2 separate regions of the Homo sapiens genome follow, and region 2 is linked to region 1. Evidence: fine-mapped QTL for protein levels in blood plasma. A gene starts in region 1. The other region holds a variant in brackets. All regions are shown on one strand. Distances are from middle to middle. Region 1 holds the start of THBS4 (thrombospondin 4). Region 2 has its middle 7.2 kb from the start of MTX3.

Region 1 (12,901 bases):
CCCTATTCATCCTGTTCTACTGGTTGAGGTATATTCTTTCCATCACGGCCAGGTAGGTGCTTAAGGAGTTAGGAGCTAGGTCTACTGAGCACTGGCTTCAAAGGGAACATAAGAATAGTATGGGGTGGCTGTCATGGGCTGAATGTTTGTATCTGTCCCCTTCCTCCCGCCCCATCAAATTCATATACTGAACTCCTAATCTCCAGTGTGATGGTATTTGGAGGTGGGGCTTTTGGGAGATGATTAGGTTTAGATGAGGTCCTGAGGGTGTGGCCCTCATGATGGGAATAGTGACTTTATAAGAAGAGACACAAGAGAGCTTGCTGTCTGTCTTCATCATGTGAGGACACAATAAAAAGATGGCCATCTACAATCCAGGAACTGGGCCCTTACAAGGAGCCAAATCTGCGGGTGGTATGGTTTGGATATGGTATGTCTGTCCCTGTCAAAACTCGTGCTGAAATTTGGTCCCCAATGTGGCGGTGTTGGGAGGTAGGGCCTTGTGGGAGGCATATGAATTATGGGATTGGATCTCTCATGAATGGCTTGGTGCTGTTCTCGAGACAGTGAGTTTCAGCTCTTGTGAAAATGGATTAGTTCTCAAGGGAATGAATTAGTTCTTGAGAGAGTGGGTTATTATAAAGCTACGGTGCCCCTCAGGTTTTCCCCTCTTCCCATGTGTCTGCTCCCTCTTTGACCTTCTCCACCACGTTGTGACACAAGAAAGTCCTTGTCAGAAGCCAGGGCCATGCCCTTGAACTTCCAGCCTGCAGGACTGTGAGCTAAATAAATCTCTTTTCTTTATAAATTACCCAGTCTCCGGTAGTCTTTTATAGCAACACAAAATGGACTGAGATGGCACCATGATCTTAGACTTACCACTGTCTAGAACTGTGAGATGTAAATGTCTATTGTTTAAGCCACAAAGTCTATGGTATTTTGTTATAGCAGCCTGAGCTGCCTAAGATAATGGCTGAATTGTCCCTTGTCCTCTCTGTTCCAGAACTGGATTCAGAATAACATCAGGATGAGACAATGTCAAAAAGCATCTTGGTCACAGCAATTCTTTTTTTCTCCCAATGTCACTTTCTTCCTGAACCGCCCCCCACCCCCCCGCCAATATAGGTAAATGTACAGTAAGAAGAATTCAGTATTAAAAACTGAAATGACTAGTGAGTGAGAATATAATTGTACAAGGAAACCATCTCAAAGACAGTATACCCCTAATCCTGGAATAGAAAAAGGAGATTTTTAAGAAAATAATTTCAGCAAATTTGCTTACCTTTGTTTAAGCGTCCCATCACAGTAAATTCAAAATATTTACTGTTGTCAGTTGAAGAGTAAAGACCGAAGATGGTGGCTGAACTTTTAGTCTGCAGCTTGAAGGTGGAAATCACATAGAGATCATTCAGGGCGGGGTCTGTCAGGACTGGCAGCAGAGCGCCTGGGTTTAGCCTCTGACTGGAAGATGGGAGAAGGTCAAAGACTGGGAAGAAGGGAGAAGAAGGGGTATAAGTGAAAGATTCAATTTTGGGGAAAACAGGGTTTCTTTGTTTGGGGGGGGTGCAATTTGACAGTAAGCTACAAAGTAATGTAAACTAATCTTGTAATCCCTTTTCCGTATTGCCAAACTCACCAGTTCTTCCCTGTCACTTTTATAGTGGCTGGACATTTGAGCCAGAAGAAATACAGCACAATATTCATCACTGGGTGTAGCCCTCAAGAGAGAGGACTGAATTTGCAAACACATAATTGGGTTTGGCTGAACAAGTAGCTCTGAAAATGCCCACCAGGAAAAGCACTAAAGGCTTAAAGTACAAGGGGGACTGGTGAAAGCATCCAAGCCATTGCTTTACTGATGTCCCCAAGCAGTGAATTTCTGTCACGGAGTCCCATAGGCACCTCCAGGACCAGAGCCAATTGTGTTTTCCTGGTCAGTGACAAATGACAGGAAATGCAGCAGAAAACATGGCTATGGTGGTAGATGTGCTGGTAGAAAGTGATTTGCCACCTTTGTGAGACCTAAGTGTTCCCTTTGTGCCTTTACAATTCTCCAACATTTCTCTGTTTAAAAAAATCCCAATGTGGAAACAAAACAAAACAAAATGATGTGGTTTCTGTCTCTTGACTGATAGAATTGCTCTACAAAAATCAGAATCTGCATTTGTATTTGTATAAGTTGCTTTTGATCAAGCAAGCAGTACTTTCTCTCACAAACTTTGTAATATTTATGAAAGCTATGAGAGAGTATGCCCAGAGTCATTTAAAAGGCAAAGGCCAAATTTGGGTAATACTCAGTGGAAGTTATTTAGTATATCTATTAGCAGACGCAAATATCATTTGAACAATTCCATAGGCTGCAGAAACTTCAGCACCTACAGCTGTCTCTTGGATATAATAATCTGGTTATTAAATGGGTAATATTGACAATTGATAAAGAGTTCTTACAAATCAATAAAATGATAAGCATCTTAATAGAAAAATGGGCAAGGAATATGAAAAGGCAATTTACATAAAAAGAATTACAATGACCATTAAGTATATAAATAAATGTTCATGTATTTACCTAATGATGCAGGAGTTGCTAACTTAAACAATAACGTATTGTTTTCACCATCGAATTGGAAAATTAGTAAATACAACAGTACTCAACTGTTTGTGAGGGTTCAGGGAAATGGGCACTCTCTGTACCACTGTGTAACATTTAAACTAGTATAAACATTTTGAAGACAGTTTAAACAACAGTATCAAAGGCCCTAAAACATATGTGCTCCTTGATCTAGCAATTCTGCTTATGGGAATTTATCCTAGGGAAATAATGGATAACATGGTAAATGATTTAGGTACAAGAATATTAGACACTAGTGGTAATTCTAGAATTTCTATTTAGGAAAGAATTAGGTGAAAATCTAATTGGAAGAGAGGTAAACCTGAGCTCTGTTGGCATAGCATTTTGCTATGAAAACATTAACTGTCCTTAGCAAAAAAAAAGAGAAGGGCTTGGCTGAGATTGAGGGGATGGTTAAACTCATCCCAAACCATCCTGTGACACCTGCACTTGTTCAATAAATTAATATTTACAATATCAAAACCGAAAACAACTTAAGGGTTCTATATTACAACCCTGGCTAAATACATTTTGATTCTTCCAAAAAGCAGAATACTACCTATTTTTAAAATGTAGCTGAATACTTACAGATGTGAAAAGATGTTCATGATACATTAAGAAAAAAGGATTCTAAAACTATATGTATAACGTAATTCCATTTGAAATATATTTTTGCATAGAAAAATATTTGAAATGAAAGACAATACAACAACATGTTAATGTTAATAGAAGCTATCCCCGGGTTGCATAAATATAAGTTTTAAATTTCCTCTTTTCTTTTTATTTTATTTTTTGCTTATCTAACTTTAATCTTTTCTACAATGGGCAGGTATTGCTTTTGTAATAAGAATGAATAAAAGTTCTAAAGCAAACAGGCAAAAACCTAGTTACTCAAGAATATTTACCCCTTTTAAAAGACAATTTGTCTTCAAACTGGATCTATACTGTATTTTTCACATGTACCAGGGGTCCTTACACAATAATGAAATTAACATGAGATGTGTTGGAAAGCAGAACATTTACTGTGCTCCTCTTAGTGCCTATATCCCTAAACCATAAACACTGTTGCCTACTGCATTTCAAAAGGGAAATTGGATTTTTTAATTTTCAAGAGAATTGGAAACTTTACATTTCCACTAATGAGGGCAAAGGGAAATAAGGCAATATGTTTTAAAGTTCCATTCAGGACAAAACATCTTCAGAAAAGAGATATGTATTTAAAGTATGGGAACTACATTCAAAACAAAATTCTTAGTACTCTTGATTCTTCCTTTGACTATGATCAGGTTCATGATGTAACTCAAGCTAAACTTGCGGTATTTCAATCTATGGTTCGTCTGATTCATTTGCATCTCTCTCAAGCGGCAGAGATGGGATTAGTTAGTAATGAACATAGAGAGTGTTTTGAAAAGGAAATGAGACACTACCATTTTCTATTAATGTTATTACGTTTAAGTGCCAGGATCAAAGCACAACCCTCTACTGTTAGAGGTGAAATTACTGCTACCAATGAGCGCAGCTACCATGGTATGTAAATTGAATATATACTAATTTAAGACCAACAATGAAGCTCAGGGGAAGAAGGAGATAATCAAATTATCCTGTTAAGCCTGATAATTGCAGACTAGATAATGCAATAAAAGAATCTATCAGAAACTTAACTTAATCAGATCATCTACAGCAACTAAATTACCCAGATAATTTAGGTTGTATAGGCCGAGTTCAAATCTCCATAAAATGGTCAGGTATGTCTGAGACATACCTAAGGCACACCATAAAGCTGTATGTTCAAAAGTCAAGAACGTATATAACACAAAAAAATTATACCTATAAATTTGAACTTGCCAAATATCATCACAATAAGACTTTTGAAGTGTTTAAAAGCTTCCTTTTTTACCTTCCTAGAAGTATGGGGCACGGACTACAGCATTTCAAATACTTCAACACAAACTAAAAGTTAGCAGTACTCTAACCCCTGAAACCACAGTTCTGGTTGTCTGGTCTGGAATGAAAATGAGTTATTTGGCGAAATGCAGTTTAAATGGGTGATTCCAGCAGCGAGAGGCAGGGAAGTTGAGAACGCCCTCATAGGCAGTCTTTGCTCTGGCTACAAGAGGAAAAACAACTTTTACTTCAAGTTGTGCGTCTCTTCCAGTTTTACTTCCACAGTCAGTAATAAATCAACCCAGGCACCAAGTTCAAACAGATGAAGCTCACGCCTGACCAGTTAGGGCCAGTTATAGCCCTAAGATCTTTCTTTGCTTAAATCATGTCTTCCTTTTGGTCTTTACAAAAAATTCTGTTTAACTGCTTTCTACCCAATGGCTATTTCACCCCATTTCACCAAGGGGTTTGAGGATTGTCCAAGTATCTTTTCACATTATTTGTTGAATTTTTACCGTTTCATAGAAAAAGATCAATTTCTTTCTTTTTTCTTTTTAAATTATAGATTCAGAGGGTACATGTGCAAGTTTGTTACATGGGTGCATTGCATAAGGTGGGATTTGAGCTTCTAGTGAACACATCACCCAGTGAACGTAGTACCCAATTGGTAGTTTTCCCAACCTTCCCCCCTACTTTTGGAGTCCCCAGTGTCTACTGTTTCCATCTTTATGTCCATATCTATCCACTGCTTAGCTCCCGCTTGTGAGAACATGGTATTTGCTTTTCTGTTCCTGCCTTAATCCACTTAGGAAAATGGCCTCCAGCTGCATCCATCTTGCTGCAAAGAACTGATTTCATTGAAAAAGACCAGTTTCTCAGCCCTTCCTATTTACCTCAGAAATTAAGACATCAAGCCAATCCTTGAAATAAACTTTCTTTTTGTCGTTCAAGCAAAGTCAGAGCAGAAAATGCAGGTGGCAGGGCAAGTAGAGTAATTCTGCGTCTTTCTCAGGGATGTCAAGAGCAGACTCTGGGCATACATCGCTCCGCCTGAGGAAGGATTTAGGGAGCAAGGCTGCCTGGAGGGAACCGGCACAGGGTGCAGGACCCGGAATTCACCCTACACCAGAGCCTAACATGTTAAGAGGTCTAGGACCGTGTAGCAAGTTTTGAAGGCAACCCCACCCCACATCTTTGCATAGTCTGAAACAATTTTGCATCCCCCAACTATTTAGGCAATTGTTCTCATCATTGGATAATCGAATTTCGGAAAATTCTAGACTAATCACTACCTCCAATCACAATATGCTTTGATTGGGCCCGGGAGGGACAGAGAGGGGCTGAGCAAGGCCACAGGAGCACAGGGCCGAGCAAGTCCCTCCACTCACTCAGCAGATGGGGCACCCGGTGCCCGGCGCTCCCAGGCCCGACCCGAACCCACTTACCCTGGGGGGTGGCCTGGGCGCCTGCCGCTAGCCACCGCTGCAGGACCAGGTGCAGCAGGAGGACGGCGGCTCCGCGCGGGGCCAGCATGTTGGCTCTTCCTGCTCCCCGCGAGGCCGGGGGCGACGGCGGCGTTGGCCCCGCCTGGGGGTCCCCGGGCCGTGCGTTGAACCTCGGTCGGCGCCCGGGCCGGCGCCGCAGGTGACCCGTGCTCGGCGTCCGGGCTGCCGTCGGGGGCGCGCTCGCGTCCCCGCCGTGCGGTGCTGGGGAGCTGGCTGCTGGGCTCCGCGGCAGCGGCCGGGCGCTTTATGGTGCGGCCGGGCGGGGGAGGGCCGGGGCGGGGGCGGCCCCCTTGGCGGGATCCCCTGTCCTGGGAAGAGCTGGGCAGCTGGAGCAGCGAGCCGGGGCCGCAGGGAGAAAGGCGCGGGTGTGAGGATGGGAAGGAGCCTGGACGGACCAGGTCCTGGGGTGGGTGTAGACACGGCCCCGACGCGCGAGGGTAGGGGCGAAGATGGGCAGTCGGGGCTGGAGAGAAAGGGGTGCTGAGCAGAGACCACAGGGGAGAAAGGAGCGGGAGGAAAGGGGCGAAAGGGAGGAAGAAAGTGACACTGACCCACTAGCTTTGGGCACCTTCAGTCCCCTACTCCTTGCGCTCCTTTTGTTTTCTAAAAAGAAGAATATCCTTTGGATCGGCTTTGAATGCCCACCTTGGGTTCCCTTGCGAATGAATCCTGAAGTTCTCCAGGAACGCTCTGCCTCCTAAAGTGGCCCAGAGAGCAGCGAGTTTCTTTTATTTCTTCAAGCTTTTCTTGAATACTTGAAAGGCTGAATTTTTTTCTCTATCATTTTGAGACACAGTGAAAGTTTGAAAGTTGTTGTGTTTTTAATGGAGATAAAACACATCTCAAGGAATCCATCCAGACAGAGCCATTTCTAGGCTGGTGAATCTGTGCTTTATGGATAATTCGTTTTCAGTATGGTTTCCAAACGCCCTGCTTGCCCACCTCTATTCCTCTGTCACCAAAGATTCCGTGTGACAGTTTAAAGGTACGGGAGTAGAACTTGAAAGAGATCGGAGGAACGCAAGTAATTCGTCCTTTTCCTGGGCAAAGCTCCCGGAATGATATGGATTAACTAGAGGAAAAAATATTTGATAAACAGTGGCAAAAATTTCTCCTCTGTAACAATCTCGACTAATGGAGAACATCCAGCAAAGTATTGCTATCTCTTTTATGTCTCAAATAATTCCATTTCAAAGTTTAATAAGCCACAAACTGGGAGATTAATGCACCATTTTATCCCCAAACTGTGCTAAAATAACCTGACACCAATTATCACTCAATTTACAGCTAGCGACTTGGAGATTTGTGAGCTATCTGCAGAGCTCTCTAATATGTAAGGTCCAATACAGGTCTATCCAGGGTTCCTTTAATGCCACATTACACTACAGTCACTCTTTGGAATGGGGCATATGTCTACACATGAGAGAACACTGAGAGACACAGAGGATGTGCATAAATATCGACTAATGAGATAAACTAGATTTGGGAACATTCAAATCTCCAGACCATGTTCCCAGGAGTGGCCTGGGTTTGAGAGGAATCTAGGCTCCCAAGCTACGCTTCAAGCAGAACAGCCTTGCCTTTCTATGTTTTTACAGTAGACTTCAGAGATTAAGATTTTCTGTGAAGACAATATTTGGATGCTCAAAATTTTGAAAGCCACTATTCAGTGGTTCTCAGCTGATTGGGTATACCAGAATCTCCTGGGGAATTTAAAAAACAGTGATTAGGTGCCTACAGGGAACAAATGAAACCAAACATCAAAAGCAGCAATATGCTATATCACACCATAGACTACTCTGATACATAAAATAGGGTTACTCCTTAAATGAGTCACCAAGCAAGCCTAGTGGATGCCTGTGAGAGTTCTTGTGTAGTGTGCCACCAGACACTGCCTGTTTCCTCTCAGATCTGGTGCTCACCTTCCACTGCATGCTTGTCAGCAGTCTAGATAAAATGGGAGACTAGAGAGCAATAAGAAGGTAGAAGGTAGACACTAGAGTATTTACTTCTCTGTGACCTGAATGGATGCATCTTCTTTGTGACTCTTGCAGGTGGGGTCCACCATGATTCTAGCTTCTGCCTTCTCACCATTTGCACCCTCCAGCCATGACATTGGAGGTCACTTACTGCAGTTGCTAAAATGTGGATTGCCTCACTCTTCTGTTTGACATCTCAGTTCTTCTACTATATATGTAATCATTTCCCTGTATTAAATTTCTTCTATTTAAAATACCTAGAGTATTTGCTAGGAATCTCCATGGTGAGGACAATGCACCACGTGCTGCTGGAGGTAGATGTGTTGGAGGGCACCCTGCAGTGCCCAGAGTCTGGACGTGTGTTCCCCATCAGCCGCAGGATCCCCAACATGCTGCTGAATGATGAGGAAACAGAGTTGATCATGCCAGGTGCCAGTTTTTCTTTTTATGACCGTGTGTATTTTTGTTGATGTTACCCTGTTTCTGAATTCTGCCATGTGTGTCCCCAACCCTTGACCCAATGACACACCAGACGCACGGTGTTCTTGAGCACAATAGTATTTTTTCTCATTAAAGATTCAAAACCAAAACAAACAAACAACAAAAAAACTAGGAATTTTCGATCCTAGCAAATTCCCAGCAAAATAGCTTGCACATCATGATGGTTAATGTTGAGTGTCAACTTGACTGGATTGAAGGATGTAAAGTATGGCTCCTGTGTGTGTCTGTGAGGGTGCTGCCAAAGGAGATTAACACCTGAGTCAGTGGACTGGGAAAGGCGGACCCACCCTCAATCTGGGTAGGCACCATCTAATCAGCTGCCAGCATGGCTAGAATAAAGCAGGCAGGAGAAGACGGAAGAGCAGACTTGCTGCGTCTTCTGGCCTTGATCTTTTTCTGTGCTGGATGCTTCCTGCCCGCAAACATTAGACTCCAAGTTCTTCAGCTTTTGGACTCTTGGACCTACATTAGTGATTTGCCAGGGGCTGTTGGGCCTTCAGCCACAGACTAAAGGTTGCACTGTCAGCTTCCCTACTTGAGGTGTTGGGACTCAGTCTGGCTTCCTTGCTCCTCAGCTTGCAGACGGCCTATTGTGGGACTTCATCTTGTGATCGTGCGTCAATACTCCTTAATAAACTCCCCTTCCTATCTATCCTGTTAGTTCTGTCCCTCTAGAGAACTCTGACTAATACACACATATAGGCACACAATAAATTTTGGTTGACTACTAAGTGTAACGGAAAAACAAAAGAATCAAATGACTTTCTGTTAGCCTAACAGAATTTACAATCTGGTTTTGCTTTTAGAGGGCTTGCATTTTTATGCAGCCATTCGCTAGGGAGTCTCAGTAAACTTTATGTCCTCAGGTCTACAGTAAATTTGATTATAATAAAATTAATTTAATTAGCTATGAAATATATGATAAAGGAGACAAAAGAGTTTATTTTCATTTCCATGCCACTTCTTATTAAAATATCTATTCATGTACTTACATTGGATTTTATTTCATTTATTTTAATAATGTATTAATTTGTTTGATTTTTTTTCCAGTATCCAACTGTGAGCTCCTTAGGATTATCTCATTTAGTTTTGTAACTCTAATTCCAAGTACAGTACCTAACATTTAGTAGTAAATATATCATTGAATTGACTTTCCTTCTCTTAATACTGTAATCTAGGATAAGAGTTGTGACATATTAGTAATCCATTAATAGGTGCAGTAGGTTACAAAAATGGCCCCAATTCTTTGCTCTTCTGTGTACACATCTTTTATTTTTCTGTGTACACATCTCATGGCTTGGCCACGTAACATGCTTGGCCAACAGGATTTTGGCAAAAGTGCCACAAGCAGAGGCTTAAAAAGTGCTTGTGTTATTGGGCTGGTTTACTCCTGCACCTTTGCCTTTGCCATGATAGCATGCCTGTGCTGGCCTACTGGAGGATGAGAGACATAGAGCAGGGTATAGCCCACCCCTGGCAAAGCCAGCCAAGATCAAGCTGACAGATGAATGAGTTCAGGCAAGATCAGCAGAGCTGTTTAGTTGACTCCAGATGTGTGAGCAGGACACATTTATTTTTGTATACCATTGAGGTTTGGGGGTTGTTTGTTATGTAACAATATTGTAGCAATAGAGAACTGATATACTACATTTTATTTCTTTTCTAATTGTTGTAATACAGAGTATGACTTAATTTTTGATGTTTGACTGCAGACAGTTCTCAAGCCCCACCACTTCCCTTCCTCTCTGCCCCACATCTGAGCAAACTGATAAGAATGCCTAGGTGCTCCTTCCTTGGCACTAGCACAAAGTTCCAACAGTAAGCCCTAGCCCATGTACAGGAACCCTCACCACAGCCCCACTCCTAACCACAATAAGAATCCCAAAGCCATTCTCCTTTCTTGTTCTCTCTAGTTTTCAGACCAGCTTGGAAGCCCATCTTACTCTCCCCCAAAAAAACGTATTATGTGAGCAATAAACCTTTCAAACCCCTTTGCTGCATGTGTGATGGCATTATTGATTTTGATATCCAAACCCAATTTTGAGAGTGGGGATCTATCCTGCTCCTGTGCGGTGACTATAGCACCATTCTTCGCAAGTGGGGGAAATCACCCATACTGTGCACTGATATTTGGCACAACTAAGTAGAAGTTTTATACATATGTGTTAATTGATATAGGTATAATAAAAAAGTTACCATTATTTATGTCAGGTTTTCCACTTGAATTTTTGAAGGAAACAGAAATGGATATAATTATTAACATTAAAAGATGGATAAAGGGGCCAGGCATGGAGGCTCATGCCTATAATCTCAGCACTTAGGATGCCAAGGTGGGAGAATCACTTGAGCCAGGAGCTGGAGACCAACCTGGGCAACATAGTGAGACCTCATCTCTATAAAAATAAAAATTAAAAAATCAGGCCAGGCGCAGTAGCTCACACCTATAATCTCAGCACTTTGGGAGGCCGAGGCCGGTGGATCACAAGGTCAGGAGTTCGAGACCAGCCTGGCCAACATGGTGAAACCCCGTCTCTACTAAAAATACAAACAATTAGCCAGGCATGGTGGTGGGCACCTGTAATCCTAGCTACTCAGGAGGCTGAGGCAGGAGAATCGCTTGAACCCGGGAGGTGGAGGTTGCAGTGAGCCGAGATTGCACCACTGCACTCCAGCCCAGGCAACAGTGTGAGACTCTGTCTCAAAAAAAAAAATTAAAAAATTAGTTAGCCATGGTGGTGCCCACCTGTGGCCCCAGGAACTTGGGAGGCTGGGGTGACAGAATTGCTTGGGCCCAGGAGGTTGAGACTGCAGTGAAAGCCATGATCATGCCACTGCATTCCAGCCTGGGCCACGGAGCAAGACCCTGTCCAAAAAAATAAAAATAATAAAAAAAAAAGATGTTTACATTCTACCGTGTGATGACATTTATACTCTAGCACTGGGAAAGGCAGACTTTGGACTCCTATTTAGTTTACTATTAATAATAAAGGAAGGTGCTTAAGTGACAGGAAAAAAGCTATTCCAAAAACTACTTAGCACAGATAAGGTCTCTGTAAATGAAGCTGGAGTCTTTTGATTAGTGTGCAATTCAAAGTAGAATTTCCTATTATTTTTTTTTGAGATGGAGTCTCGCTGTCGCCCAGGCTGGAGTGCAGCAGCGCGATCTCGGCTTACTGCAACCTCCGCCTCCCGGGTTCACGCCATTCTCCTATCTCAGCCTCCCGAGTAGCTGGGACTAAAGGTGCCCACCACCATGCCCGGCTAATTTTTTTTTTTTTTTTTGTATTTTTAGTAGAGACGGGGTTTCACCATGTTAGCCAGGATGGTCTCAATCTCCTGACCTCACGATCAGCCCGCCTCGGCCTCCCAAAGTGCTGGGATTACAGGCGTGAGCCACCGCGCCTGGCCCAAAGTAGAATTTCCTCCCCAGAATTTAGAAGATATTTTGCTTTAGCAATTAGGCACTGACGATTAGTAAAGCAAGAAAAGAGGTGTGAAAAATCAGTCATTTTCAATCTAAGGGTCTCTATAAAAAAATTATCATTAACCTCTTTAATATATTTTACTAAATAAAGTGTAAAATCCTTAGAAAAATAGCCAGAAATCAATTGTGAGGACATGTTACAATTAATAATTATGTATACATTTAATAATTATGTATATACCAAACTTGAAGTCCAGAGAGAGTTTATAACAACTAGGATCTCTTAAAGTAATTGCTTGCCTTCATTAAACAACACATTTATCCATCCATATGGTGGTTCCTGCAATGTCTAATGATAACAATGATTATCGTGCCAGGAATATCCCTTACTGAGTGCCAGGTGTCTAGATGTATTTGCTAAGAAAATATGATGTGGAGTGTAATGAATTAATATGGCATAAAACAAACTTGCAAAATACACGAAAATTACATGAATTTGGATCCTGCCTCAGCCTCCCAAGTAGCTGGGAATTTTGGATAGTTTGATTTTATTTGGGCTGAAGTTCATCTATGGGGAAAAAATGGTTTGCAAGCAAATGAATAGTATTACTTCATTTCCTGGGGGCATGTTTGTCCTAACTAAAAGAACTGTCACATCGAGGGATTTTAGTAGTTAACTTTCAACAGGAAAATCAGTGCTGCTAATTACAAATTACTTCTAATTAGTTCACTAAAGCTGTAGGTACAGATGAGACTATATAAAAAGAGTGGGTAAAATAAGAAAAAACAGGGAGGGGGGTACAGGAACACTGGGGAACACTAGTATTAAGAGCCTAGTAGAAGGAGAAGCCAGAAATAAATACTTAAGGATGCAAAAGAAAATCTGGAAAGTATGGTTTTGTGGGCCGGGCATGGTAGCTCACGCCTGTAATCCCAGCACTTTGGGAGGCCGAGATGGGTGGATCACTTGAGGTCAGGAGTTTGAGACCAGCCTGGCCAA
Region 2 (12,901 bases), 37 kb after region 1:
CTCTCTACTAAAAATACAAAAATTAGCCGGGTGTGGTGGTGGGTGCCTGTAATCCCAGCTATTCAGGAGGCTGAGGCAGGAGAATCACTTGAACCCGGGAGGCGGAGGTTGCAGTGAGCCAAGATCACGCCACTGCACTCCACCCTGGGTGACAGAGCGTGACTCTGTCTCAAAAAATAAAATAAAAATAAAAAATAAATAAATTGTTTTTTATTCTTTCACTTGCCATGTGTAATTGAAAAGTGAAAGTTACACATGGTAAGTGAAACAATAAAAAACAATTTAAAATTTAGAATAATAAGAGCTAAATAATACGAAAAGTTGTGGCTTTGCTCTAGTGGATAAACACTTCACTAACCTTTTATCTGTTTGCTTGCTTCTAGTCTTTCCTGAATTTCTAAATCAAACCCGTAGGCCACAGTGGCAGGAGACTATAGCAGATGAGAAGCAACAAGGGGCCACCCTAGTGTCCTGCAAAGGTCTGAGTCTGCGGGACCCAGATCTGCATCTCCAGAATGAACACAGAGAGATGTTCCAGGTCACCAACAGATGGGAGCACCTACCTAGAAGGCAGAATCCTGACTTCCCTAGGCCAGTCCAATGTGGTGCTGGTCCCACTCACAGAATCTGAACAATATCATTTACACACATTCATCATCCTTCTAACATGGATAATCTAAAATTTTCCCATTTTCTCCATTTTGCAGGAGAAAACCAAAACCCTAAATCAACCCTGAATGACACCTGAAAAACCTGGCTTCTAGTTTCAGCTCAGTCATGGTGGATGGGGTTCCCTGCGAAAGCTACTGTCAAATGTGGAAACTGAGGAATCTGACTAGGAGATTTTCAGAACCCTTTTGGCTGTAACGCTTAGTTCCCTTTATCTTCATTCACCTCTCTGGCCCTGAATCATGCAGGTCACATTAGCAACATCCCAAGTATGAATGACCCTCCCTACTACTTACTACCAGATCCTCGCTGTGCTCAGCTACACTTTTAATTTTAAAGAAACAGACTTGTAGAAAAATGTTTAAAACCCGGGATACATGAAGAGCTTCTCCAGAACCTCTCAACAAGCGGCTTTTGATGATAAATACCAGATGCTATAGAGGACGATTAACTATGCAGACAACTTGCATGTAAATTATACAGTAACATAAGAAGGGGGTCTTCAGAGATATGGGATTTCATTTTGAATTTGGCGAAGGCATCTGCTTCTGTCCCCAAAGGGGAGTAGTTTAGAGCTGCTTTAGGTTCATTCATACATATATACTCATTGTTTTTGTTCTTTTCTTCTTGAGGGAATTGCAGGTGCTCTTTTTTTCTTTTTTCTACTGGAAGAACTGCTTTATGTTGGCTGGAGCTGTTTTGTGGCTGGGAAGTAGAGATGAGAATACCATGGCAGCTGCTTGAACCATTTGGTGAGAAACAGGTAGAGAGCTACTCAATCAGGGTAAGAATTGATAAGGAAAACAGCATGATGTGACCTCTAACCTAACCCTTCCAAAAGCTCACTAGGTTCAAAACCATTCCTTCCCTTTTTCTCTCTCTCCCTACTTACTTCTCCTCTTCTTCTCATCCTCTGCCCCTCTGATCTCTTTCTTGCGCCCTCTCATTTCCCTAAATATTGCCCGAATCTCCAATTCACTTTTAAAAGTTTATGAAATGTTTGTAGTATTTAGGCATTTATAAAGGTATAAGGAATAACTCCAGAAACATTAGTTCCTACTACTTAAGTTTGCAGTATTCAAACTGCAAATTACTGAAGCCTCTCCTATATCCCTCTCTTAATAATATCGATTCCCCTACCCTTTCTCCATCCCAGGAGTTAACCACAATATTCTACTTGCCACCCACTCACCTGTAACAGATCATAATATGGAATTTTAAGAAAACACACTTGTTCCTTAGTGAAAAATGTATATTCCCTGTTCTGTTAAGAATCAGGGAATTTAGTTAAAATTTTAAAGAGAAAGACAACATGTTTTTGTTTTTTTTTTTTTCAAATGATCTTTCGTTAACATAACAGTTCCTCTACCCACCTCCTGCTGTAAGGGGTATGCACTAATTAAGTTTCCCAGCACCATCAATGCTATTTTGTTCAGAAGTCTTTTTCTGATTCTGTGTAAATTTTAGACTCTTTTATTTTGTTCTTAGGTTTTCCTTTTTTTTTTTTTTTTTCTCCCTTCTGGAGTTTCCTCAGCTGTCCAGTGTTTCTCTACTATCTCCAATTACAGGACTCACCACAATGCCATTTACTGCTTGGACAATTTCTTCTTGAATATGAAATGCTCTCTCTCCCTGCACTCTGCACCAAGTGATTACAGTTGACTTTCTCTGCACCCTTTCTATTTAAAAGATTTGATGAAAAAGCATGAACATCGTTCACATTAGGATAGAGCATGGGGGTCACTGGGAGGGGACTTCCCAGCTTTTCCGAGGCAGCATGACTGTTATACAAGGCAAAGGTCTTTGGTCTCCTGTTTCTTTTTGGGACATGCTAATGGGTTAGGGGCAGGAGAGTCATCCTTAGTGACTGGGTCTCCCCTGACATCCATTGAGGGTATGTCAGTCTCCAATGCTAGGGCTAGGAGAAACCTCTGTTTTCATTAGGCCCAGCAGATGTGTCTTGGTAGAGGTGCCCTTGAGGTAGTGTGGCCTCAGATTCACATCTTTGTCAGGCAGCTACTGAAGGTAGTGGTTAGATACCAAAGAACAAAACGCCTGTTGTAGGGTACCCACCAGTGTAACCCCAGTATTAGATGCTGGTCAGTTTGTCATTTCACTATTAATGATAGTTAACAAAAGCAGACTGCATGGTATGGTATAAAATATGGGACTAGAAAATGTCTAATCATTGGACTCAAAGTTCAAATTGAAAATAGAGATACTACACTGGCTTTTTCCAAATAATGCTTTTATTATCTTCCAAATTAGTATTGTTTTTCTTCTTATAACTTATTTACATCTTTGGTAAATGGTTAATTTGAAGAATGTCTATGAAGTAAATATGGTTTAATGTAAAAATCATGGCTTTGGAGACAAACAGAACTGGGCAAAAATCCTCATGTAATCACTTTTTGAAACAAGATATTTACCCTTGGTGCCTCCAACTCCAAATTCCTTTGTGTGGGTAAATAGGCCTCTGACTGTGCCTGCAGTCTTATTTCTCATCATTATCTACCGCTCACTTTACCCTCCTGAAATGTTGAATTATACGTAGTTCTCAGACCACAATATACTATTGCTCTATTCCATGTTTTTACTTCAGCTGTTTTCTGTCTGGAACACCTCCCCTGGTACACCTCCTCCAGGAGTGCTTCACTGACACTGTTTCATCCCCAAGCCCTCTGCAGATGGGTGAATAATTCCTCTTCTATAACCTCATAACACTTAATTAATCTCCAACAGCACTCACCACACAAGAGTGGACGTTACTGTGTTTATCTCCTCCATGTACGCCATTCAGTAACAAGAGCTACATCTGATTGATCTTGGTATCACTGGTGCCAGCATTTAGTAAACTTAATAAATATTAGTTGGATTGAAAGGGTTATATCTGCAAAACGAGTATAATACTATCCCTTCAGTTATTGTGAGGAAGAATTCAATAAATGCCACTGCCGGTTCTGTTACCCAAACTTCTAAAATATTTCTAAAACACGGCAACAAATATGTAGTACGTGCAAAGAAAAGATATATTGACAGTCACCTCTAGATGTCGTTTTTGTACTCAAAACATTTTCTGGAGAAAAATATGTTCAACGGAGTTGTAATTATATTTGCCAATTTTAAGATATCATCTGGCTTATGAAATCCAAATAAAGAGATGATGCTCATGGATCAGGTGAGAAGTCTTATTGAGAGTCAACTGGTCTAATTTTTGTAAGCTGTTGGTGATGTCCATAGGTACAAGTTATCTCGAAGAATAAATCTAAAACTAAGCTGTTTTAAAAACAGGTCCAAATATATAATGAAGACATCTACATATAAAAAAAATCAGAGAAAGAAAATCTTTTCTTTAAAATAGAGACCCTCTGGGAATGTTTTCTTTGGCCTCAGGAAGCTTCTACCACAATTCCCGCCCGTAACCCTTCCTCCCCTCACCAGTGCACACACATACGCTCTCTTGGAAGCCTCTCTCCTGGATATTTACACTGAGTTACTGTTCCACACTGGAAATACACCTCTCTGGACTTGATTTGCTCACTCTCATCTTATCCTTTTGGTTTTCAGCGCTATGATTAACCTTGAATGAAAGTTGAAGGTCACTTAATTATCCATACCAACAAATGGAGAAAAAGGCATATAAATTATGCTTATTCATGACAGCCTTACTGTCCCATCCCTAGGATGGAAATGAGAGCTGGGAAATGGAAGGCTGTGGTGGCAATAACAGAAGGCATGACATATTAGGAAGCCAAAAGATGGAAATGCCTTGTAGTCAAGGGGCAGCAAAAGGAGGAAGACTCCAGTTACTGGGTAGATGTGGGAGAAGAAAATGCAATGGAAAGAGAGGACACAGACACCTGAGGAAACTACCATAAGGAGGGGTAGACTTTGTGGTCAAAAGCAAAGGGTAACTTTGAGACATTTGAAACTGAAGAAGCAATAAAAGTTCTGTTCTTGTAATAGTTGAATATGTTTTGTGTCCATCAACTATAAGCATCTATTATGTGCCAACTAAATGCTGTGGGGGATATAAGAGTTAGTTCCTGCATTTGAAGTAAAAATGAGTATGCAGCTTTATGCAGGTGTAATCAAATGGTGTAAGTACAGTAATATAAATTAATAATAATTCATAAGTATTTACATACTGAGACATTTTATCAAGAAGTTAATATGCCATTCTCCCATATACCTACTCAGTATACTTCTTGGGTTGATTTTAATGTTGTTGCCTCAGCACCTTGATGAATAGGGGAAGCAAGACAGTTCCAAAAGCTATGAACAATACCCAACTGTAAACACCATTTCAAACTCATTGGACCCTGTTCTTTCCTCTTCCTAACTCACTTCCATTACTCAAAATGTACGCTAATTTCTTTTAGTTTGCTAAGATGGCATTTAAAGCACTGATGTGAGTAATGACTGACATTTCAAGAGGAATTTCCATAAACTGAGGTATCAGACCAGATATATCTCATTTTACACAACTGACATGATTGTGGATTGAGAGAATTTTTATATATGGACTATTTTTAAATGCTAGGAGACTTTGCTGTTTAAAGCGATTTATGTATAAAGCAAAGAATCCTCCAATAATGAATCTTTCCTCAGGCAAATTTTAAAATGGCAGCATTTCACAAGGCAGGATTTATTTGTTCTTCATTATCGATGGCAGCCTATTAATCTGGAAAAGTAATATAACTCCCTATAAACAATACACATAATGACTTAAGTTCTGAAAATAAGATCATTTTATACACTCATTTTTAAACATTTCAGAAAATGGGATCATATCCATAACTTTTTCAATTACTACCATAAAAAAAGGAGGCATGTGAATTTACTATTTTTGCTCCCTAGTAGACTTGGCTAATCCAATGGAGGAAATATGAATAAATACATCTATTTTTTCCTGTTTGGTGTAAACAAATAAAGCTTGATATAATTATTCCTCACAGGGATAGTATAAGAAATGGATAAGCTATAAACTGTTAATGGGTTTAGAATTATAGTAATTCTTATTATGCCATAGCCCTTAATTTTAGTAATATGGCTGTAAGAACTATTGATCCAGCAAATATACATATATTCAAACAAAGCGTTTTAATATATTGCTTTTTTTTCTTAAAGAAAACTTTGAAATGTATCTTTAGCCAAACAGAGAATGCTGGATTGTTTGTAGTTTATATTAAGGATTCCAGTGATTTCCAAGGTTGACTGAATCCCAGGGGTGTAGTGGGGTTACCCAGTCCTAAGATGATTTCCTGGAGAGCATCTTTACTCCCGGCTGTCCATCCTTATTCATTGTTACTGATTCTAGAGAGCCATGTGGCCACTGAACATAGCTCAGCATCACTTCTGGGAAAACATTTAAATGGCATGGTCTTGCTGATGAAAAGATGTCCGAAATACAAAGTTCCATGAAGGCAGATGGTCCACATTTTTAGCTGCCATCTGGTTGAATGCTCTGGATATTTCATGTGCCCATTTTTTGCATCACATGCCATTACATTACCTTTAATTCTTTTTAAAAACATCTAATTTCAATTAAGTATAGACTCACAGGAAGTTGTAAAATAAATGTACAGGGATGTTTCCCCCAATTGTAACATCTACTGTAACTATTGTACGATATTAAAATCATGAAAATGACATTGGTACAAACCACAGAGTTCATTCAGATTTCACCAATTTTGGGTCTGGGTCTACGTCTGTGTTGCTATGTCTCTTTTTCCTTATAAGGTCACCTTTATTAGGCTGTTATCACATTGCTACAAAGGAATACCTGAAACTGGGTAATTTATGAAGAAAAGAGGTTTAATTGACTCACAACTCCACAGGCTCTACAGGAAACATGGCTGAGGGGGTCTCAGAAAACTTACGATCATGGTGGAAGGCGAAGGCAAAGCAGGCACGTCCCACACAGCTGGAGCAGGAGGAAGAGAGAGAAAGGGGAGATGCGACACATGTTCAAACAACCAGGACTCATGAGAACTCATTATTATGAGAACAGTAAGGGTGGAATCCCTCCTTGATCCAATCACCTCCCATTAGGCCCCTCCTCCAACAGTGGGGATTACAATTCGACATGTGATTTGGGCAGGGACACAAATCCAAACCATATCAGTTACCAATCACTGGATTTGCAGTCTATCCTAATCCAGTATGATTGGGTTGTTTTCTTGTTGTAAGTTTTAAGAGTTATTTGTATGTTTTGGACCCAAGTCCTTTAACAGATATATGTTTTGCAAATTTTTTTCTCCCAGTCTGTGGCTTCTTGTCATTCTCTTAATAGGAAATGTTGTATTTTTATTATCAATTGTATATATTTCTTTTCTGTTGACACTTCCTCTCTGACCCACTGATTACGTAGAAGTATGTTAATTTCCAAGTTTTTGGAGATTTTACTGTTATCTTTCTGTTATTGACTTCTAGTTTAATTCCAGCACAGTCAAGTAATATATTCTGCATTATTTCATTAAAAACTTTTGTTGAGGTTTGCTTTATGACTCATAATAGCCTACTTTGGTGAATGTTATATAGGCTCTTAAAAATAATGTATGTTCTGCTGTCACTGGGTGGGGCATTCCATAAATGTCTATTAGATCCTGTTGTTTAATTCATCTATATCTTTGCTTATTTTTTGTCCAGTAGTTCTATCAATTGCTGAGTGTCGGGTATAACTATAGCTTATGTTATAGTTAAAATTATGGATTTGTCTATTTCTTCTTTCACCTCTATCAGTTTTTGCTTCATGTATTTTGAAGCACTGTTGTTTGGTGCACACATTTGGGATTAATATGTTGTCTTGTGGACTGATCCATTTATCATTATGTAATGTCCTTCATATA[T/C]ACACACACACACACACATACACGCATACTACTTTTTTTTTCCTGATCAATGTTTGCATGGTATAACTTTTCCATCCTTTTAGGTTCCATCTACCAATGTCATGTTTGAAGGAAGTTTCTGAGGGACAGCATACATTTAGCTTAGGTTTTTTATCCACTCTGCCAATTTCTGTCTTTTAATTGGTGTATTGAGATCAACTTTACATTTAGAATAAGTCTTGGTATTTTAGGATTTAAGCCTGCCATTTTGTTACCTGTTTTCTGTTTATTCTCAACTTCTCATCTCTCTGACTACCTCCCCACTTCCAACCTATCACTCCCCTGCTGGCCCCTTGCTTTCTTGTGGGTTACTTGGACTTAAAAAAAAAAAAAAAAACTATTTTGATTTATTTAGTATTTTTGAGTATATCACTTGTATAGTTCTCTTAGTGGCTACTCTCAGTATTATAATATACATATTTAACATCACAGTCTATTGGTATATTAGGTTTTACCACTTTGAGTGAAGTATAGAAATAAGGCTTCCGTTATTTCCATTATTTACTTCCATTATAAGGTCCTTATTTCCACCTAGGACCCTTTACAAACCTCATTTTTTAAGTATAATTGTCCTATTTCCTCAACATAAATTCAGCACAATGTCAGATTATAATATTCTCATTTTGGTTTCATTTAATTCTTTTTCATACAAAAGACAGCAGGTTTACTATGCTGGAGGAGCAAAATGAATCCCTATCAGTATATATTACTGCCTGATCACCTTCACATAGCTACCAAATACATGAACTTGGCTTTTTATGCTTCTGGGTAACAAAGTATCTTTAGAGGAAGCCACACAACTGTACAAATTTAGCTAGACGTCAGGATGGCTGAGCCCCCATCATGCTGAAGCTACAGAGTTCATCTTCTTTCAATTCCTGGGGCAACTCCTAGGGTACCATCCCTCTTCTATCATCCTCAGGACCAACTTTTAAGTGGTACTAAAATCCGGATTTCCAAATAAAACTTTTAAAATAATTGGTAAAATATAAATTGATCTTGTTACATTCTGGGGCCAACTTTATTTCCATTTAAAAAAACTGAATGAATATTTAAAGAATATCTGTTTAAAGAGGCACCTAATCATTAGCCTGCCCATGGCTCTCCCTTGATTTATCGCCTTAATACTAATTTACATTTGACCTTTACGACTGTCAGCAATGCTCCCATTTACTTTTTATTAACCCCTGATATAGTCTCTAAATTATTCCGCCTTTTTTTTTGTGTGTATGTGTGACAGAGTCACTCTGTTGCCCAGGCTGGAGTGCAGTGGTACGATCTTAGCTCACTGCAACCTCTGCCACCTGGGTTCAAGCGACTGTCTTGCCTCAGCCTCCTGAGTAGCTGGGATTACAGGTGTGCGCCACCACATCCAGCTAATTTTTTTTTTTTTTTAGTAGAGATTGTGTTTTACCATGTTGGCCAGGCTGGTCTGGAACTCCTGACCTCAAGTGATCCTCAAGTGGTCTGCCTGCCTTGGCCTCCCAAAATTCTGGGATTACAGGTGTGAGCCACTGTGCCCAGCTGTCTTTTTAAAGCCCCAATCTCTTTCTCTCAGGCACTTTTATTTTTTTTCTAATGTAATAGGGAAATTTGAAGGTAACTGATTTATCTACTCAGCATCCCATAGTTCCCCTTGAAACTTCCTCCAGTGTCAGAAAGAGAGCATGTCTCTCATTTTCAATGCCTGCCAGCCCCGCTGCTCAAGCTCCGGATCTCAGCCTCAACTCTTAGGGCAATTTCTAGGATCCCATCCTTCTTCTCTCCAGCATCTTCAGACTTTTACTCATAATAGCCAATTTTGTCCTCATATGTGTGTAGATTCACCATGTCGTCTCTTTCAAAAACTTTGAGTCTTTCAGTCCTGTCCCATTTCTCTTCTTCCTTTATCAGTCATATTCCTCATGCTCTTAGACCTGTCCTTATCGTTTATACCCTTTTCTCCAGTAATCCCTTGCCACTGGATTTCTAACAACCTCCTCTATCAAAAATGCTCAGCGGAAGGGTGCCAAGTGACCTTCCTCCAATAATATTCAGCAGCATTTTCCACCACACTTTTACTTTATTTAATATAGTTTATGGGTTTATAAAATGCTTCTTCTTATAATGTCCATGTAACAATAGCTGTCTACCTCCCATCCTTGACTATGTAAATCCACTAATATTGTATTTGGACTTTTACTTGTCTTTACTTTCTCAAAACTATAAATTCCCATGCCTTCCAATTCTGGTTCTCAAGTTAGTCAACCAATACTCTCCCTGAGCAGTCTCCAGCTTATAACCAAACCCAGCATTCGTTTACTCATCTTCAGATTCCTTGCCATAGTCAGTCCTGTTTCTATGCCTTCACTTATATAGCACAGCCCATATGCAATGCCTTACTCTGTGCCAATCTAAATGCAACGTACCCACCCTTCGAGATCAGCTATCATCTTCTTTCATTAGGCCTTTGCCAAGCATTGCAGTACATTCAAGCCTTTGTCTAAAACCATACTAGACTTGTCTTCTTGACAAAATGGTACTTCCTAATAGTCTCTAGTTAGTTCAAATATGTGGGCCTTGTTTCATCAACTGTGCCTCTAAAAGCTTGAACATAAGTTTTTGCACAATCACGGCTCACTGCAATCTTCTCCTCCTGGGCTCAAGCCATCCTCCCGCCTCAGCCTCCCAAGTAGCTGAGACTATAGGCACACACCATCATGCCCAGCTATAATTTTTGTGTTTCTGTTGAGACAAGGTTTCATCATGTTGTCCAAGCTTGTCTTGAACTCCTGGGTTCAAGTGATCCTCCCTCCCAAAGTGCTAGGATTACAGGCGAACATAAATTTTTATTCCCTGACAGGCTTGCAGTGTGCTAGGCATACAGAAGCTGCTTAATGAATTCGTTTAATGGTGTAATACTAAACAAATATTATTTACATAAATAATAACAATAATATCATGGCATTGATATCTCCACTTTGGGTGAAACTGGGCTTTTTAATGGACTACACAGGAGGCTACATGAGGCAGTATGACACAGTGGTTAAGAGTATAAACTCTGAAGCCAAAACTGCCTGGGTTCAAATCTTGGTTCTACCACCTACTGGCTATATGGGTACTGATATTTTCTTCTATTTTCAAGGAGGGACACAAAGATGTTAGTTAACCTTAGGAAGGTACCTGTGTCATGAAATCATTATGGAGATAAAGCAAGTTATGTTAGATACTTGAAACAACTTCTGGCATGTAGAAATTGCTCCATAAATGTCAGAAATTATTAAATGTTCATTACACATAAAATGATAGCATCTCAGAGATAAAAGAACTTTTGCTTTATAAATGAATGAGCAGAGGTATCAATGTAAAATGATTGGCCCAAGCGCATATGGCTAATCAGAGGCCAAGTCAAGAACTCAGCTCTCCTTTTTTCTATTCAGTGTTTGTTCTTTCCCCTCCTTAAGGATTTTATATCTGAACACAAATTACAGAATCTTCAAGTTCAAAGGGATATTTAAGACTTTACAATTTAATTTTCCCATAAGGGACCATATACTGTACCATCATTTGTCACAAACCTTTCATCTTTCCCAACAGCACCATTTCCCAGATTCTTAATCACCCAGACAAAAAGAGCCTAACAAACCTTGCACTGTGGCTCCCAAGTTAAGAAACACATGAAGGATGGGTATGGATGCCAAGGTCAGGTTGCCTGAGTTCAGATGACTATCACCAGATGAAACCATTCTTAATGATCATCTTTTGAAAAATAAGATTTCTTTTTTGGGGAAAACACTGTCTGGGATACTCATTATAAAGCTGTGATTCAGGCCATCCCACACAAACATGGATGTTTTGCAGACAGTATTCTTCCCGGTAGGAATCTGAAGTTATGATTTAGATGAACTCTGAACAATACTCTAAAACAGCCAGGAAAAGGCACAGGAGCCAACTAACCATACCAGGCATAATTTCTGAAGGCTTCAATTTTCTGTGTGGTTCTCTGGAACAGTATTCAGCCTGTTTGTGCAATCAGCTATGTTAGAGTTTTTTAAATTCAATCTAACAGATACAGACTCTCAAGAGGAACTGCAGCAATAAAAGATTGCTATTATCTATGCACTAATAAACCTGTGTGTAAGGATTCTTTCATCAGATGCAATGACATGCTATTCTGTCTCAATTCAACACTAAGGGAAGAGATTTAATTTCTCTTTAATGCAAATGAAATCACTGTATGTAGTAGCAGCAGTACGGAAGAAGGCCAAACTGAGTAACTGTGTTATGTGTCCACTAAGAATGTTCATTCACTCCTCTCAGTCCTGCTACAAACAAGGCTCAGGAAATCCACATTCTTTCTGTATGATTGTTTTAAATGCCTGAATGTAGTATATGGACCCTCAGCTTTATGGCTTAGGATTTTCTTTCCCCCTGCCTTGCCTTTGTCAGTCTATGGTTTGACATTTCTAACCCTCAAAACAGGGAGGTTCCATTACAATCTGAAAGTTGAATTACTTTACTTTCTTTATACTGAAGACTCAACAGATAGTCTCCACTGATCACACAGAGGATGCACTGTCCCTCCTTTGTGTTTCTGTAGTATTTTGCTTATATTTCTAACCCTACTCGTGATTATCTGACTTGTTACACCTTGGTGTGTGTATATCTCCTTTGTGCACTGTAAACTCCCGAGGACAGAATTCATGTTTTATATATTTCTGTATTGTTCCAGAACCTTATGATGTCTAAGACATAGGAGCTGCTCAATAAATGTTTCGACAGTTTTAATGGTACATATGTTATGCATTTTCCAATTATACAGTTATTATTAATGAATTCTCATTTCTGACATATCTCTTTTTCATTTCTTAGAACTCTTGGTTTTGAAACATGTAAAAAAGACTTTAGCAGGCTGGCACTGTAATTTGAATGATTATGTAAACAGTAAGGGAGTGCCTAGCAAATATTTGTTGAATAGTAATTTTACGAAAAGTTGCAGAGGTTTCTTTTGAGTTTTAGTTAAGAAGATCCGACCATCTCAGTGGAATAGAGGAAAGAACTCAGAGGCATGACTGCGAGGGTGTCCCAGAAAGACTACTGTGCCTTCTAGAAAAAAGACCCAGCACCCAAGTTCTAACTCTGAGACCCAGTCATATGTTTGGATCATAGCATTTCCAAGACCAAAATTTCCTCTTTAATAGTTTTTCTGAGAAACTGTCAGGTTTAACGTCAAGAAACATTTAGTCTGTGCTCATTAGGCCCACAGACATGACGAGCTACATGATTTGAGGGGCCCAGTCCAAAATAAAAATGCAGAGCCCCTTGTTCAAAACTTAAGAATTTCAAGACAGTGACGGAAGAGC

Evidence for each region. A credible set is the group of variants that fine-mapping cannot tell apart. PIP is the chance, under the fine-mapping model, that this variant and not a neighbour inherited with it causes the effect. Protein levels are from antibody-based Olink assays in UK Biobank. Linkage for the fine-mapping came from a reference panel and not from the study's own genotypes, which makes the PIPs less certain.
Region 2: its variant is the best candidate, but not a certain one, in a credible set for the plasma level of the THBS4 protein (UK Biobank, PIP 0.72).

Annotation. Positions count from the first base shown.
Region 1 is chr5:80,028,662-80,041,562 of GRCh38, reverse strand. THBS4 (thrombospondin 4) reads right to left here and starts at 6,215. Exons shown (of 22, transcript NM_003248.6): 1 at 5,938-6,215; 2 at 1,283-1,486. The coding sequence starts at 6,025. It also overlaps the pseudogene TRMT112P2.
Region 2 is chr5:79,992,026-80,004,926 of GRCh38, reverse strand. It overlaps a transcript of THBS4 not described here. Among named protein-coding and RNA genes, the nearest start is that of MTX3, 7.2 kb to the right of the region's middle. The variant T/C (reference allele first, on the strand shown) is at 7,521.